Linked DNA regions of Homo sapiens: region 1 is linked to region 2. A link means that fine-mapping ties the variant in region 2 to the expression of a gene that starts in the linked region. Tissue or cell type: whole blood. Region 2 holds a variant in brackets; the other region holds the start of a gene. All regions are shown on one strand. Distances are from middle to middle.

Region 1 (8,000 bases), 35 kb before region 2:
CTTATCTTTGCATTAAATTTTCTTTAAATTTATGTTCAAAGGAATATCAAAGGCAACTTTTTAAAAATAGACTTCATGGGATTGTCAATGTCTTAAACAGCCTTTTTACTTGACCACTAAAGCACAGTAATTGATCTTTGGTTTTAACAACTGAAACCCTTTAAAGCAAATGCCAACAGCTTTTTGATAGGCAAAAAAAAAAAAAAATCGTTTTTAGAAGTCGAAAACTAAATATACCCACATATTTTAAGATGCACTGCACCTGAATCCTTAGGAAAGGAATGACATAGGGTTCTCTTAGCAAACTTCCCCTCCCTCTCAGTCAATTACTAATTAAAACAGATAATTCTGCTAGGGCTAACATCGTATTTGGGAACAGTGCAATGATTCTATAATCTGTTTCAGCCTTTGCAGAAATATTTCTAAAGTAACCCTCTAGCTGTAGCACATGTGTACGTGCACACATGTATGTATACATATTTTCAATCCTTGGGTTTGTTTTTTTTTTTAACTTAGAATTTGTACTCTGACCAGCTGTGTACCCTTGGCTAAGTTATTATATATTTCTCATATTCAATTTCTGCATCTGTAAAATGGGGATAATAACAGAACTCATCTTGTGAGGTTGTTGGGAAAACTAGATTCAATGCTAGATTCTTACCCCTTATAAATTTCCTAAACACATATAATCATACCCTCAAAGTATATACATTTAGTGGAGCATCTGACGTTCAACCACCTATGAAATTCCCTTTATCTAGTTCATATCAACCTAACTTGCTGCTCATTAATTCAAAAACATCAATGACTCTTGCCAGAATAAAGATATTCTGGTAGCAAGAAAGACAAATGATCTTTGCCTGGATCTATTTTTAGGAATGGTTTAATTATCTACATCTTCAATGTTAACATTGGAAAATAAACAAACGGGTGAAAGGCATAAAGAGTCACTCTGAGATGAACAGTTTCACAGTGTTCAAAAATAAATGGGGATGAAGAAAACATTTAGATCATTTCTCTCACTAGATAGTCCTTACTGATGAAAGGTAGGCCAAAATTTGCAGAGGTTTAAGAGGAATTGCCAAGTCCATCAATTCAGGCTGTTCAGACCTACAAGGTTCAGAGAGTTTCCAGGTTTAAAATGCAACCAACCAGTGAGAAAACTGTAATTCAATAGCTGGTTTTCAGTGAATCACTACCTTATAGTGTCAAAAGAAATTTGTTTAGTTATATAGTTACTTCAGAAAACATTCAATAGTTTCTGCAATGAAATATATTTATATCTATATATTATTTATTCTCATCTAAATAGGGAAAAAACTGACCCTGATTCTCATGTCAGGCAAGAAAGGTATTATAGTTAATAATTACTACATCACCAGCTACCAGGTATTCATAATTATCTATGACAAGATTAAGGCTACAATTTAGAAAACTGCCAAAGAAACAGCTGAATATTTTGTTCCAATTACACTCCTGCTAAAATAAAGTCTGGTTATTGATTCATTTTCTCTCTAAGAAAAGCTCTGATGTGAATACGGGCACTTCAAACTCTAGTTACATAGATATTACACCATGCTATTTCCTTATTCATCCTAATCTATTAATGGAACATAATCTTACCGGAAAAGGAAAAATGTTGTCAGCCCTGTTCAAGCTATCTTCCATCCAGGATTTAGGTGCAAAGGCAGAGCTGGGGCGAGCATACTTCTGGAGCTGAATATGATTGCTTGCAAAATTTTTCTTCAAAGGCGAGATGGAGTTCAGGGGCGTTATTCCACCATTCAGCCCTCTGCGGTGATCTCGGCCTTGGGAACCTCCCCAGCCACCATATCCACCACCGCCCGGGCTCCAGGAAGAGGAGGGTGTTGGTGACGGACTCTGGTAGCTGCTCCACGGAGAGGGGGGTTTGTTAAGATTATTCGCCAAATGAGGCAGCTGGTTAAAAGCAGCATTTCTATGTGTGAAGGGTGGGGGATGGGGACTGGCAGGAGACCTCCTTTGCTGCTGATGCTGGCTGTGATGATGCTGGAAATGAGGGTGATGTGGGTGGTGCTGTGAGAGAGGCCCGATCTGAGGAGAGAAGCTGCCTCCAAAGCCAGGGCTGACATGATGGGGGAAATTTTGAAACAACAGAGCACCGTTATTAGCCGAAGCAGCAGGGACCCCTCCCTGGTGAAAGAAACTTGCATCTTCATTGATTATTGTAGAGGAGGAAGGCGCTATCGCTGCTGACCAGTTACTGAAACCAGTAAGAGACGATGCGCTAGATGTCAAGGGTTGGGTTGAAGTACCTAGCCCAGTGGCTTCTTGATAATCAAACCCTGTCAACACTGGAGATTCGATCCTTATTTTCTCCTTCCCATTGCCATTTTCCGAAGAATTGTCCCCTTGATTTTCTTCTGATTTTGCCTTCTCTGTTTCAGGCAGTATTCCAGCTTCCTGACCTGGACTTGGGGAAAGCTGCTGCTTTTCTAAGGGGTCTTGCTGTTCCTGTTGCTGACTTTTTGCTTTTTCTGACCCCAAGATCTCATCCTGAATGTTATGGGTAGCTGGAGCAGGAAAAAGCCAAGCTGACCCAGCACTGCTGCCATTGGCAGCTGTGTTATTATTTATAAAAGCAGCAGGGCTGGGGGTGGCATTTTGGTGATGGTGTGGAGGCTGCAGATGTGGATGGAATCTGACTGGAAAAGCAGATTTATTCCCAGTATTGCTTTGCACTAGCACTCCAAACCCGTAATCCCCCATTTATTATCTTTAGGAGCAGAATCTCACAATAAAAAATGACAACCTGATGTCTCACGCCTTTTTTTTCCTCTACCCCAAATTTAAGTTGTTTGCTTGCTTGCTTGAAATGTCTTATTTATAGCTAGCTCAAAGATCGCAGCTTATCACCTTAAATTGTTCTGATTTGGAATTCTGGTCTCTGAAAGAAAAAACAACTCTTAAAAAAATCTCTTAAAACATTGACTTGGATCCAATTGGGCTTATTTTTAGGAGGGAATAAAAATGAAGAGGGTAAAAATCAAGTCTTTGGTTAGTAAAATAGGCGCTTTCTTTTTCCAAAGGAAAATGTACATGAATGACAAAAACAGAGCTTCTCAAGCATCTATGGATGTAGAAGAATAAGCCTTGCGCGGAGTAAAAATATAGATATATATAATTTAACAATCACATATGGTTTTCCTCAGCAGTTTAGATTCACTCACATAAAAATTAGAATAGGACTAAGAGGGGAATACGTTCTTTTCTTGGCAGCTTGGTTAAAAAAAAATCAGGAATAATTTAAGAACATTATATATTATATATTTATATATATAGATTATATTAGGTTATCTGGGGTGGGAAGTGAATTCCTGGTTTCGGGAGAGGAAATCAGCATTGACTAATGGAAAGATGATTGCAGGGAGGTTTCTGCTGTTCCTGGTCCTGTTTTCTGCTCTTTCGCAGGGTGCAGTTTTGGCCTCTGGGGCTGTTCCTGAGGCTCCGGGTGCAGATCTTGCTGCGGTCGCTGTTCCTGGGCTCCCCGCGGCTTCCTCTCCCCCATGAAAGGGGTTGGAAACACCCGTTTCTCCCTCTTGCGGGGGTCGCGATCAGGAGGGATTAGCGAGACTCGACGAGGGTGAGCGGGCGGCCTGGGGGTGCGGGGACCGAGGGGGCGACCTGGAAGGTCCTGCGGTTTCTGCCTCTTCCCCTCTCTGCGGCTCCGGGGTTTTTTTCCCTCATGGGACCCAGGGGCGGTTTGTTCAGTTCCCTCAGTTCGATTCTCCGCAGAGAGGGAAAAAAGAGGAAAAAAAGGAAAAACCCACTACCGTAGTTATTTTAAAGGAGAAGGGCCTCCCCCCTCGGCTTTCTCTCTCTTTTCCCCCAGAATTTTTTTTTAAACTATAATTTAGAAGGCTTTTGTTTCTCCTCACGGTTGCTGGGCCGTCGCCGCCGTCGCCGCTTTACCCTGGTCCCGCAGTCCCCGCTGTCGTTGTTGAGGACTCCTCCTGGTTCTTCTTTTTCTTTCCTTCTTCCTCCTCTTCCTCCTCTGCTGTCGCCGCTGCTGCCGCCGCCGCCGCCGCCACCGCCTCCCGGTGCCCGGGTCCCGCAGCCGCGGCTGAGTCCTTCTCCTCAGGACCGAGCCGAGTGAAATGACAACCAGCTGGAAAGACCCAGAGACACTTCCGGTTCGAAGAGGGAGGGGTGGGGGTAGCACTCATTCCCCACCTACCTGCCGGAAGACCAATCATCTGTTAGAACTCAGGCGAGGCCACGCCCCCTCGCTTCAGAGCTACTCCCAGGAAGGTCGAAAAGTTACCTCCAGAGACGCCTCTTCCGTCTGCGCCTCGCCTAGTGAGGCCCGGCGCCTGGAACCCGCTTCCCCCACCCAGAGTGAGCGCAGCAGGTCGCCATCTTTTGTGTGGGCAAGGGACTCCTTTGATATTTCTCTTCCCTAACTGGGCTTTGCAGGAGGAGCAATAGGGACGTGTCAAGGAGAACGGATTCCTCGCTCACGAAGGCATACGGTCAAGGTGTTGGAGATCGAAGTGGCGGCCCGTGAAACCGCGGATGAATGAGAAGGGTGCCCACAGTAAAGGTGGTGCTCCAAGCATCACGTGCTCTGGCCCGAGCTCCGCCCCAGAGGGATCTGGAAGGGGAGGCGGGTCTTGCCAGCAGCTGTGCGGTGCCTAGAACTGCGTTTGCCCTTGCCCAGAATGTAGACCTCACGAGGGACTCTCCCTTAACCTTCCATTCGCTCACCCGCACCTCCCACTCTCCCATTCTGCTAGGCTCGCATCTGGTGCAGTCTCCCAGGTGCAGAGATGCAGCTGAGGCGTCTGTGGCTATGCCCCCGTATCATCCCGATCTAGTACACCTTACACGCAATACCAGAGGGAAAATTCCAAAACTAAAATTTTATCTTGACCCTCACATGCTCCGATTTCTTCTATGGTTGCCCATTATTTCGAAGATAAAGGCCAAACTTGTTAGTCTGGTATTCAAGCCTTTCTACCTAATGGGTGGTATATCTTAGTGCCTCTTCCCCCTCCAAACACACTCTCAATGCCTTTTTACATGTCCTTTCCACTCTTCTCCTTTGGTAAATTCCTATTTATTTCTAGGAATCAGTTCAAAAGCCACCAACAGCATCTTCTGAATTCTCTCTTATAAGCGTCCACGGCCCTGTGTACCTCTCGTGCTTGTTTCTCACACTATATTGTGATGGTTTATGTCTTCCAGACCTGTGCTGGACCGTGGGCTCTTTCAGGAGCAGACATTGTAGATAGGAGACATCAGTGAATGAATCCTGAAAACGTGAATGAACAAACCAGCAACAATGAAGTCTTCCCTGAGTGACAGCCCCCCAACCCACTGCCACCCCTTCCACCCGTCACCCACCCCCCACCCCTCACTCCTGTTTCCAAGTCTGAATTAATTATTTCCTTCCTTTTGCCATTTGGTTTGGAGCTCACATATCAGACTTTTCATTATGTTTGGTACTCAAGGGCTTTAATGTCCTGTTTATCTTTGTACATTCCCAACGCTATGACCACCATCAGGGCTTAGGATAATGCTTTGCTCTCAGCACAGCTTTAAATATGTTAAATAAGTGAGTATTTTCCTTTAGCAGGAAGAAAAATGAACAAAGAAATCAGGGTAGAGCCAGAAGTAACTGGCACAACTAGAGGGAAAAAAAAGATACCAAGATTAATGAAAAATAGTATGAACAAAGGTGGCTTCCATTTCATTTCCATAGCCTTCCTCTAATGGTCTCAACTTCTGCCTCAGTCTGTCAATCCTCCATCACTTCCGTGTAGAACACCTGAGGGCCTTCAATCGGTGATTTTATTCTCTTTCATTGTGCCATGAGCATGAGTCTTGTCTCTGTAACTCTACTATGGATTCTTTGAGCATAGAGATTGGGTCTTACCTGCTGTTTATTCCCTACAACTGGACATGCCTGGAAACTTAGCTGGTTCCGTCAGGTGTCTTTTCCGCCAGAATGGTTTCCTTGACTGGCCCTCTCTCTAATGTCTTGTAGATTGCTCTCTTTTAATTACTGCTGGTTGTCAGTGGGTTAGTTTCTTAAGGGCAGAGGTTGTGTCTGATTTATCTTTATGTCCCCAGTGGCCAGAAGAGGGTCTGGCACAGAGCAGACTCAAAACTCAGAACACATTTATTGAATGAACAAATGAATGTTCCATGCCCAGAAGATGGTTTAGGGTCCCTCAGAGCTACTAATTATCAGTGGCTAAAATGGCAGCCATGACTTGGAAAAAAGAGCACCTTTGGAACCAAACAGCCCTGAATTTGAATCCCAGCTCTGCTGCTTCCTAGCTGTGCAAAACTGGGCATCACCTCTATAAGCCCTTGGTTCCTTCTAGATAAAATGTGAATGATATTTCCTCTCTTGCTAAGTTTGTAAATTACATGGGATACATGTGAAGTGCTGGACTCCTAAAAAGTTTTATTAGTCCATTTTCACACTGCTATAAAGAAATGCCCAAGACTGGGTAATTTATAAAGGAAAGAGGTTTAATTGACTCACAGTTCCACGTGACTGGGGAAGCCTCAGGAAACTTACAATCATGCCGGAAGGCGAAGGGGAAGCAAGCACTTTCTTCACAAGGCGGCAGGAGAGACCAGAGTGAAAGAAGAACTGTCAAACACTTATAAAACCATCAGAGCTCATGAGAACTCACTATCAGGAGAACAGCATGGGGAAACTGCCCCCTTGATCCAATCACCTCCCTCTGTCTACACATAAGGATTACAATTTGAGATAAGAGTTGGGTGGGGACACAGAGCCAAACCATATCAGAGGTGATCAAAAATGTCACTTCCTTTGTAACACATTAAATGCAGGGAATTCCTTCACAAGTGTCTTTTGCCTAGAAGCAGCTGTGTGCACAAGGGAATCCAGGAACTTGTCTTGGTTGATAAAAGGTGGAGACGCCCAGGGCCACAGTCAGGTGCTGCCAAGTCGGGCTAATCTTTTAAGGCTAAGTCAGGTGTGGGCAGTAGATTGGGATGGTTTGCAGCTAGGATGATCACTAAGACATCAGACTCTTGCTTAGGGACTGGAAGTATGGAAGAAGGAAGGGGGAAATCTATTATTTTCTTTTCTTTTTTCTTTTTTTTTTTTGGCATCAGTTGCCTACTCAGGAACCCAGGATACCCAGAGCCCAGGGCTGCGCTCCTTGAAAACATTCTGGCCTCAGAAACTTCCCATGGTAACCATGACAACAATTCAGCAGCTCCATTTAGGATCTCCAAAAGGATCTACAGATGTAGGTGAGTGCTGGCTTGAGCACTCTGCTGGCAGAAGAGAGCCTTTTTCATGAAGTGTGCTCACCAGAAAGTTTTTGGGTTGCAGGGGAAGCAAGTTCTGCCCAAACATTAAGGTGCTACTAGTTAAAAAAAAAAAAAAATTAAAAAGCTCTATCCCTGTCTAGTACAATGAGGGCTAACACACCTTCAGAGAAGTTGTAGGCTGGGGAATGCCTGTAACCTGGTAGCTACTGCCCAGCCCCCTCTGGGGTTTGAGGTCAACCACACCCAGAACCTAGAGCCTTCCAGGAAGCAGGGCATTAATATCTCCTTCACCAGCCTCTTTTAAAGCTCGGCAAGCAGTAGAAATCTCACCCCATAATCACACAAGGTGAACTCTGCCCCAGTCCAGCTCTAATGTCTCCCACCACTTTCCTTGAAGCATGCATTGTCAGCCTTCTCCCAATAGCCCACACCCGAGCTCCCCAGAGGCTTGTCTAATGACCAAAAATCAGGACCACTACCCAAGGCTGCCCTGGTTGTGCACTGTGCAACTTCATAAGGCACCACAGACTAGTATGTGAATGCATCCAATGGAGTTGTACAAGGCAGCAGCCCTGTTTCAGTTCTTTTTTTCTAAGACACAGGGGCACATTATACAAATATGACACACATACAAAAAAAGCTCATTACATGAGCCATGCTTATTGCCTGCAGAAATATTTAAAGCACTTGATCCTTTT
Region 2 (8,000 bases):
GTGTGTTTGTAAGGGGTCAAATTTTAAAATGCTGGACTTAGATGGGCCCTTGAACCTGGACTTAGAGGAAAGGCTGCTTTAGTGTTTTTATGGCCTTTATATCAGCCCTTGCATGATCTTCTAAGAAACACACACACACACACACACCCTCTGAGGAAAATGGCTGAGTGCCTCAATCTGCAGATTGGTAAATTGAGGCTCACAGAATTGAAACAGCTGACAGGTTTGACTCACATGAAGGGATTGGAGAAATCATACGGGCTGGACGTGGTGGCTCATGCCTGTAATCCCAACACTTTGGGAAGCAGAGGCGGGAGGATGGACTGAGCCCAGGAGTTCGAGATGAGCCTGGGCAACATAGGGAGATGCTCTAGTTCACCTTGGAAGTAACGACAACTTTCAGTTTACTATGTCTCTATCTAAAAAGAAGTAACAGGTTACTGGAAAGATCCTGGAACCGGGAGAGAGAGGAAAGCTGGGTTCTCTTCCCGTGTCTTCCAACTACTGCCTATGACCAGATCACTTTCCCTGTCTGAGCCTAAATTTCTAATTTCTGAGGAATTCTTGGGATCCATGGTGCCATCACCATCATAACTACTGCCCCCCACCCCCAATCCCGCAGCAGATTAGGTAGGGGCTACTGGCAGAGAAAGCAAGAAGGTGGAGCAGAGGGATGATAAGGCCATCCCAATTCTGTGCCCAGGATTTTGGCCTGGAGAACACAGCCATCAATTCAATCCTGAGCTGAGCAATGGAATGCAGGGCAGGCAGCTCCCACTTTGGGAGACAGAGGTGGGAGGATCACTTGTGCCCAGGAGTTTGAGATCAGCCTGGGCAAAATAAGGAGACCTGCTCTGTACAAAAACAATTAAAAGTCACCCTGGTTTGGTGGTATGTGCCTGTAGTCCCAGCTACTCATGAGGCTGAGGCAGGAGGATTGTCTCCTTTTTAAGAGTTCACCTGCAAAGAGAGAATGCTGATGCTTAGGGGGAAATGGCATCTGTGAGCTAAGGAGCAGGGCCTAGCTAGGGAAACAAGGAGCCTGAATCCTAAAACAGGGAGGTAAAGAGTTCTGAAAGGTGGCATCTAGCAAGATGTAAAATGCTTGGGTTTAAAATGCCAGCTCTCTACATCTTGATCACTCAGAGATGATTTATTGAGTGTCTACTATATGGCAGGCACTGAGCTAAGTCCTGGAGTCCTGGAGTGAATAAGACAGGCATGTCCCTGCTGTCTTGGGGCTTATGTTCTGGTGTGGGGGAATCAAGTGCTGTCCTTAAACCAGACGAGTTTAATGAATCCCAAGGGCTCTGCGGGAAACAGAACAGAACGAGATGGAGTGACTGGCGGGAGCACATCCAACAGGGAGGTGACAGGAGTGACCTCTGAGTTGGGCCTGAAGAATGAGGCGGAGCCAGCCAGGGGGAGAGGGTCAAGCAGAAAAACAGTGAGAGGAAAGCCCTGAGGCTGCCCGTAAATGAGGAGGCCTTCAGCTGCAAGTCACAGAAAACCCCGACTCAAGGTGGCTTCTACGATAAGCACATTTTTATCTCACTGAGCTGGGAGTTCTCAAGTAAAAGGTGGAAAATGGGGAACACAGCACTGCTGCACCACATCATCAGGGCCTGGTTTCCTTCTGTGTCTCTGCCCATCCCAAGGCTGGGTCCCTTCATGGTGCCTGTAGTGCCAGGCACATCCAGACACAACTGTCTAGCGAAACAAAGAAAACTTCTGTATCTTCTAAAAGAGAAGAAGCTTTCCCCAGGAGTCCCCAGTACACTTTTCCTTAGACCACAAGTGACTCACAAGCCCAGCCCGAACTACACAAGTGAGAGAAATGGTATTTTCCATGATTACATTGGGTATCTAATTGATATGGGGTAAGATAACCTATCTGGATCAATGGACGCTTCTATCAAATCAGAGTCCTGTTGGCCAGGAGGGAAAAAGGAAAGAGTGTTTACAAGGCAGCCCACAGGGCCCAGTACAAATAGGAACAAAATGGTGGTTAGAGGGAGGAAGAGAGGGCAAATGTAGAAAGAATCAGGTGTCGGCCAGTCGCAGTAGCTCACACCTGTAATCCCAGCACTTTGGGAGGCCTAGGCAGGCAGATCACCTGAGGTCAGGAGTTCAGGACCAGCCTGGCCAACATGGCGAAACCCCGTCTCTACAAAAATACAAAAAATAGCTGGGCATGATGGCGGGTGAGTGTAATCCCAGCTACTCAGGAGGCTGAGGCGGGAGAATCTCTTGAACCCAGGAGATGGAGGCTGCAGTGAGCCCAGAGCCTGGACAACAGCGAGACTAAAAAAAAAAAGAAAAAGGAGAGGAAGAAAGAAGAAAGAAAGAAAGAAAGAAAGAAAGAAAGAAAGAAAGAAAGAAAGAAAGAAAGAAAGAAAGAAAGAAAGAAGGAAGGAAGGAAGGAAGGAAGGAAGGAAGGAAGGAAGGAAGGAAGGAAGGAAGGAAAGAAAGAAAGAAAGAAAGAAAGAAAGAAAGAAAGAAAGAAAGAAAGAAAGAAAGAATCAGGCATCCTAGGCGGAGGTGAGGTCAGGGAAGTGGGCAGGGGACCACTGATTTGCTTGTGAACAGGCTGCATTACTCATCTGTGAAAAATGAAGCTGATAATAATATATTTCATAAATGTGCCAACAGTACATGATAAGGCTCACCATTGTGTAATGTGCCATCAAGAAAGAATAACAACTGTCAATTAAACTCTGACATGCCATCAATTGTAAAATATACTCTGATTTTTGAGATGTTAAAATGTGAAAAAGAAAACAAAAAGTGTGTGTGGTAGAACCATCGAAATCTGGTGGTAGCAACCTATGAGGCAGAGGCAGAACTGGGATTTCCCTGCAGGATCCCTCTTTCTGTTCTTCCTTTGTTGTTTGATATTTGTGTTTCTTCCAGTATGGTGAAATTGTTTCTGTAGTTTCTTAGGACCATATCTTGAGAGTGGAGCCAAGAGGTTTGACTCACATGATGGGATGGAAAAAGTCACTTGGGCCGGGTGCGGTGGCTCACACCGGTGATCTCAGCACTTTGGGAGACAGAGGTGGGAGGATCACTTGTGCCCAGGAGTTTGAGATCAGCCTGGGCAAAATAAGGAGACCTGCTCTGTACAAAAACAATTAAAAGTCACCCTGGCTTGGTGGCATGTGCCTATAGTCCCACCTACTAATGAGGCTGAGGCAGGAGGATTGTTTGAGCCCAGGAGGTCAAGGCTGCAGTGAGCTATGATTATGCACTACCCTCTAGTCTGGGTGACGGAGTGAAATCCTTTCTAAAAAAAAAAAAAGAAAAGGAAAAGAAAAAGAAAAGGAAAAAAAGGTCACGTGGTATAGCGTGAAAACAACATAAGTTTGAATTCCTCTTGGGCCCCCCAGCTTTGATGGGACTTTGGGCAAGGCTCAAAGTCCCTAAGCCTTCCCTGAGCCTCTTTCCTCTTCTCGCTCTCCTGGTTGCTGTGAGGATTCGCTGAAGTGGTGTGCAGGGGCCTTTTAGCTCCTACTCAACACACAGTAGGTGCTCTATCCGTTCCCTTCCTTGAAAGTGAGGAGAGATTGGAAAACAGCCCCGAGATAAAAATAACCTTTGTCTCAACTCTCCTTCAAAACCCACCTGCCCTAATGAAGCTCCATCTTGCATTTTGCCTTTGAGTCAACAGTTCCTAGAAATGGACACAACTTCTCAGTACTCTGCATGGTGGCTGAATCAGCTCCCACCAATCTATCACATGCAGCCGGACGTACTTGCCATTTCAGTCACACTCGCTAAGTGCTTCCATCTAAACCTCTTGAGGCTACAAGGTACCAAATGTTTTGAATTAATTGGCTTCTATTTTCCTTTCTGTACATGCGCCTCAGTGCCTTTTTAGGGTGAGATTGACTCACAGAGTCCTTCCTGAATTCTGGCAGCCCTGATTCTACTTGGAGTTAATTATCTCTAATATGCTGTACAATTCCCTCTGTACCTTTTATGACATGGAGTTGAGGCATAATTTATCCAAGTCTATCATTGGAGATTTTTTTTTTTTTTTTAGAAAAAAAGAATGATGTGTGTGCCTCGTAAGAAAATCCACTCAGCCCATTAATTGTTTATTCACTGGGTGTTTCTCGAGGACAATCCTCTTTGCCCAGCATTGTGCTATGTCCCTTATAATTCATGACCAAGTGATAGGCATGTCACAAGCCTAGCAGTCAGTATTCTTACTCCCATTTGGCCAGGGAAATACTTAGTTCGGAATGGAGAATGGCTTGCTGTAGTAGTTCTTCTCCATTTGCTCTCTCTGCCATCTCTTTGTGCTGGGGTCCTTGTCCTCTGGGCTTCCTGCTGGGTTCAGCCAATTGAGGCACTAGCAGGAGAAGAGAGAAGTCGAAGTCTTTCTTCCCCATCCTTACCTAGTTAGGTGCCACCTGTCTGCCAGTCGTTGAGTCCCTCCATGAGTGTGATGCCTGATAGAGGGCAAT[G/A]CCACCGTTTCCTCCGTCTGTCCCCTCTGCTCTGAAGGGGTAACAACTCCTCCTCGTTGCTCTTCTTTGCATGCTTCGTCATTCCTGGTTTATTTCCTCATCCTCCCAGCACCTGTGTGGTCCCTTCCCTCTTTTTCTTTTTCTTTTTTTTTCATTTTATAGTAGAGAGATGGGGTTTCGCTCTGTCACCTGGGCTGGAGTACAGTGGTGCGATCATAGCTCACCACAGCCTTGAACTCCTGGGCTCATGTGATCCTCCCACCTCAGCCTCCCAAGTAGCTGGGATGATAGGTGGGAGCCACAGCACACAGCATGTGGTCAGTTCCTTAAAGTCTCTTCACCTGACCCATCTGCAGTGAGTGGCGTTTCCTCCAGGACCCTGACTGACACACTCAATCAAGACCACGCAGCTGATAGCCACACAGCGGGCCTGGGATTCCACATTTGCCACAAGTCCACTCTCTCTTGAGTTCTGCCGTCCCGTGTCTGTTATCCTGAGAACTTGGGGTTTTCTCGGATAAGGAAAAGGAAGGTGTGTTTTATCTTCAAATGTCTTTATATTTTTGATAGGACACTTGGAGGAAATCAGGCTTTTTGAGAATTCAGTGACAGCATATGTGTTTCGCTCCCAAAACTCTATTCAAATTCATCCCATTGAAATCAAACCCCTAGTTCCTTTTGAAAGACTATTGTCCAGCGGTAGCTTCAAAGGCAATAGCAGGAAGTTATATCAACCTGCTAGGGCTGCCATAAACAAAGTACCACAAACTGGGTGGCTGAAAACAATGGAAACGTATTCTCCCACAGCTCTGGAGGCCAGGGTTGGAAAATCATGGTGTCAGCAGGGCCCTGTTCCTCTGAAACTCTGGGCAGATGCTTCCTTGCCTCTCCTTGCTTCCGGTGGTTGGCTGGCGATCTTTGATGTTCCCCGGCCTGCAGCTGCATCACTCCAGCCCCTTCCTCCGGTGTCATATGGTGTTCTTCCCTTATGTGACTTCATGTATGTCCCTTCTCCTCTTCTGGGAAGGCACCAGTCATACTGGATTAACGGCCCACCCTACTCCAGTATGACCTCATCTTAACTAATGACATCTTCAACAGCCCTACTGTCAAAGAAGGTCACACTCCAAGGTATGGGGGTCAGGGCTTCAACACGTCTTTTTGGGTGACACAATTTAACCCATATCAGAGCTGTCACTGAGGACGGTACTGACTTGGGGCAAAGAGGGTCTGATGGCCACTTGGAGACTGGTTTAGCTCCAAGTGACAGTCAGACCCTCCTTGCTCCAAGTCAAAAAAAAGAAAAAAAGATTTAAGAAAAGAAAAAAATCAGGAGCTATGATAAACATTTAAGGGTGGGCAGACCTTTTTTTCTTAATGGCCACAGGCAACATTGTTTTCTGAGCAAAGCCATCTTTATATGAATTTCTCATCTGGAGTGACAGGGATGGGGTGGTGGAGACTTAGAGAAGTGAATGATTGGATAGTTCATCATTTTCAAAGAGCTGAGAGGACCTGTGGAGACATTCAATGTGTCTGTGTGTATTGGTGGCTGGGCAGTGGGGAGCTGGGTAATGAAGCAGATGTTTAAAAAAATTCCCTTTCCTGTCTTTCAGAGCAACATTTCTCAGTCTGCACCAGCTTGTACAATACGCAGGAGTGGGAGACTGCAAGGGTAGTGAGGACAAGAGAATCCCAGGGCAAGGGGAGAAAGGGTCATGGAGGAAAAAAGACTTTGGAGAGGTTCTAGAAAATTGCAAGAATCAGCACCTCTTCCTTCCTCTTTCCTCCCTCCCTTCCTGCCCTCCTTTCATCTATTCGTCTTCCAGACTTCCCCTCACCTCCTTGACTGGCTCCCAATGCATCACATATCATGATCTTGCTAAAGAAAGATTAGGAATTAGGCTGCCTGGAGTCTGCAAATTAAATGATTGAGCCAAACAGAAGTGAGGGCCACCGAGGGGGCATGCGGGAAGGAGACTGTGACAGTATATCGAACATGTCATGTCCAGCAATGACAGGACATTGCCTGAGCTGTCTCCAGTCTGAGCAGGCATTTAATGAACAAATGCAGAAGCACCCCAAGGATCCGAGAGGAAACTGCCACAGGGGTGGAGAGATAAGAAGCCTCAGAGCCCCACTCCGGGTGCTCTTTTCAAGGCTTCTTGTTATAGGAAAAATGTGATTCACATCTTTTTTTGTGGCTGTGAATTATATTAATGAACAGCTATGTGCTCACTGAAGTCACTGTGACCCAGAAGAAATTGTTTCAACTGTATCTGAATTCCTCATATTTAAATTCTCTTTCTCTCTCTTTGGAGAGAGAGACCTGTAAGAGAAATATTCACACAGTGCCAACAAGTACAGAGTAAAGCACACACTTCCCTTCCATCTCTGATTCCTGGTTCCCCAGAGGCAACCTCTATTACTCGTTTTCTTCAATTAATTATCTTCAAAAAGCAAAAAGTCTATGTCTTGTTTGTTTGTAGTGTTGTAACTGTTTCAAATGAAAGTGCTCTAAAGTAACACCAGAGGGTCCGCCACCCCTGCACCACCAAAATAAAACTTGTTTCTCAGGGGAGTAAGTTTTTCTCTACTGGGTCATATCACCTCAAAGTGAACAAGCAGGGCTAGAACACATGAGCAATTAAACCTGGAAATACCCTGTGAGGTGGGTGTTGTTACTCTCATCTGTAGGCATAGTTATGCCATTTTACTGATGAGGAAACTGAGTTCCAAAGACTAAGCAATTTACCTAAGGTCATAAGAAAGGCAAAGTCTGACCATAGGTCTGGTGGACTCTCTTCAGCGCATTGAGCCGCCTTCTAGTGTTTTCCAAGACTATTGGTCTATTTCATGGCCAATGATTCCCAAATAAATGAATAAATAAATGATTAAATCAGGCTGGACGTGGTGGCTCATGCCTGTTATCCCAGCACTTTGGGAAGCTGAGGCGGGTGGATCACTTGAGGTCAGGGTTCCAGACCAACCTGGCCAACATGGCAAAACCCTGTCTCTACAAAAAAAATACAAAAAAAAAATACAAAAAAAAAATTAGCCGGGCATGGTGGCGAGTGCCTGTAGTTCTAGCTACTAGGGAGGCTGAGACAGGAAAATTGCTTGAACCCAGGAGGTGGAGGTCGCAATGAGCTGAGATTGCATCACTGCACTCCAGCCACCATCTCTAAATAAATAAATAAATAATTGAATACATTGATCCCTAACAAATTTTTATTAAGCACCTATTATGTATCCTACTAGGTGATTTAGGAGGATATACAAGTAAGGGATGGTGCATATAAAGATGGCTGCACATTTTTGCCTCTCCTTTCACGAAGGAGAGGAGTCTATTTTGAATCTGAACTGGCCCTCTTGCTTTGCTTTGACCAAAAGAATGCAACAGAAGTGCTTCTGTGTAACTCTCAAGGTTGGGCCATAGGAGATCTACAGCTTTCATTTTCACACCCTTTGAATATTCCCTTTTAGAATCCAGCTGCACATGCCACATAGAAAGACCACAGGGAGAAC

The links. PIP is the estimated chance that this variant, and not a neighbour inherited with it, causes the effect.
Region 1: it holds the start of CPEB4, and the variant in region 2 is fine-mapped to the expression of CPEB4 in whole blood (INTERVAL, PIP above 0.99).

What each region holds. Positions count from the first base shown.
Region 1 is chr5:173,884,482-173,892,481 of GRCh38, reverse strand. CPEB4 (cytoplasmic polyadenylation element binding protein 4) reads right to left here and starts at 4,133. Exons shown (of 10, transcript NM_030627.4): 1 at 1,624-4,133. The coding sequence starts at 2,748. RefSeq lists a silencer at 1,562-1,856 and enhancers at 1,361-1,860, 1,861-2,362, 4,387-4,626, 7,593-7,842.
Region 2 is chr5:173,849,312-173,857,311 of GRCh38, reverse strand. No RefSeq gene overlaps it. Among named protein-coding and RNA genes, the nearest start is that of CPEB4, 35 kb to the left of the region's middle. RefSeq lists an enhancer at 1,332-1,626 and cis regulatory regions at 1,210-1,779, 3,421-3,961. The variant G/A (reference allele first, on the strand shown) is at 4,473.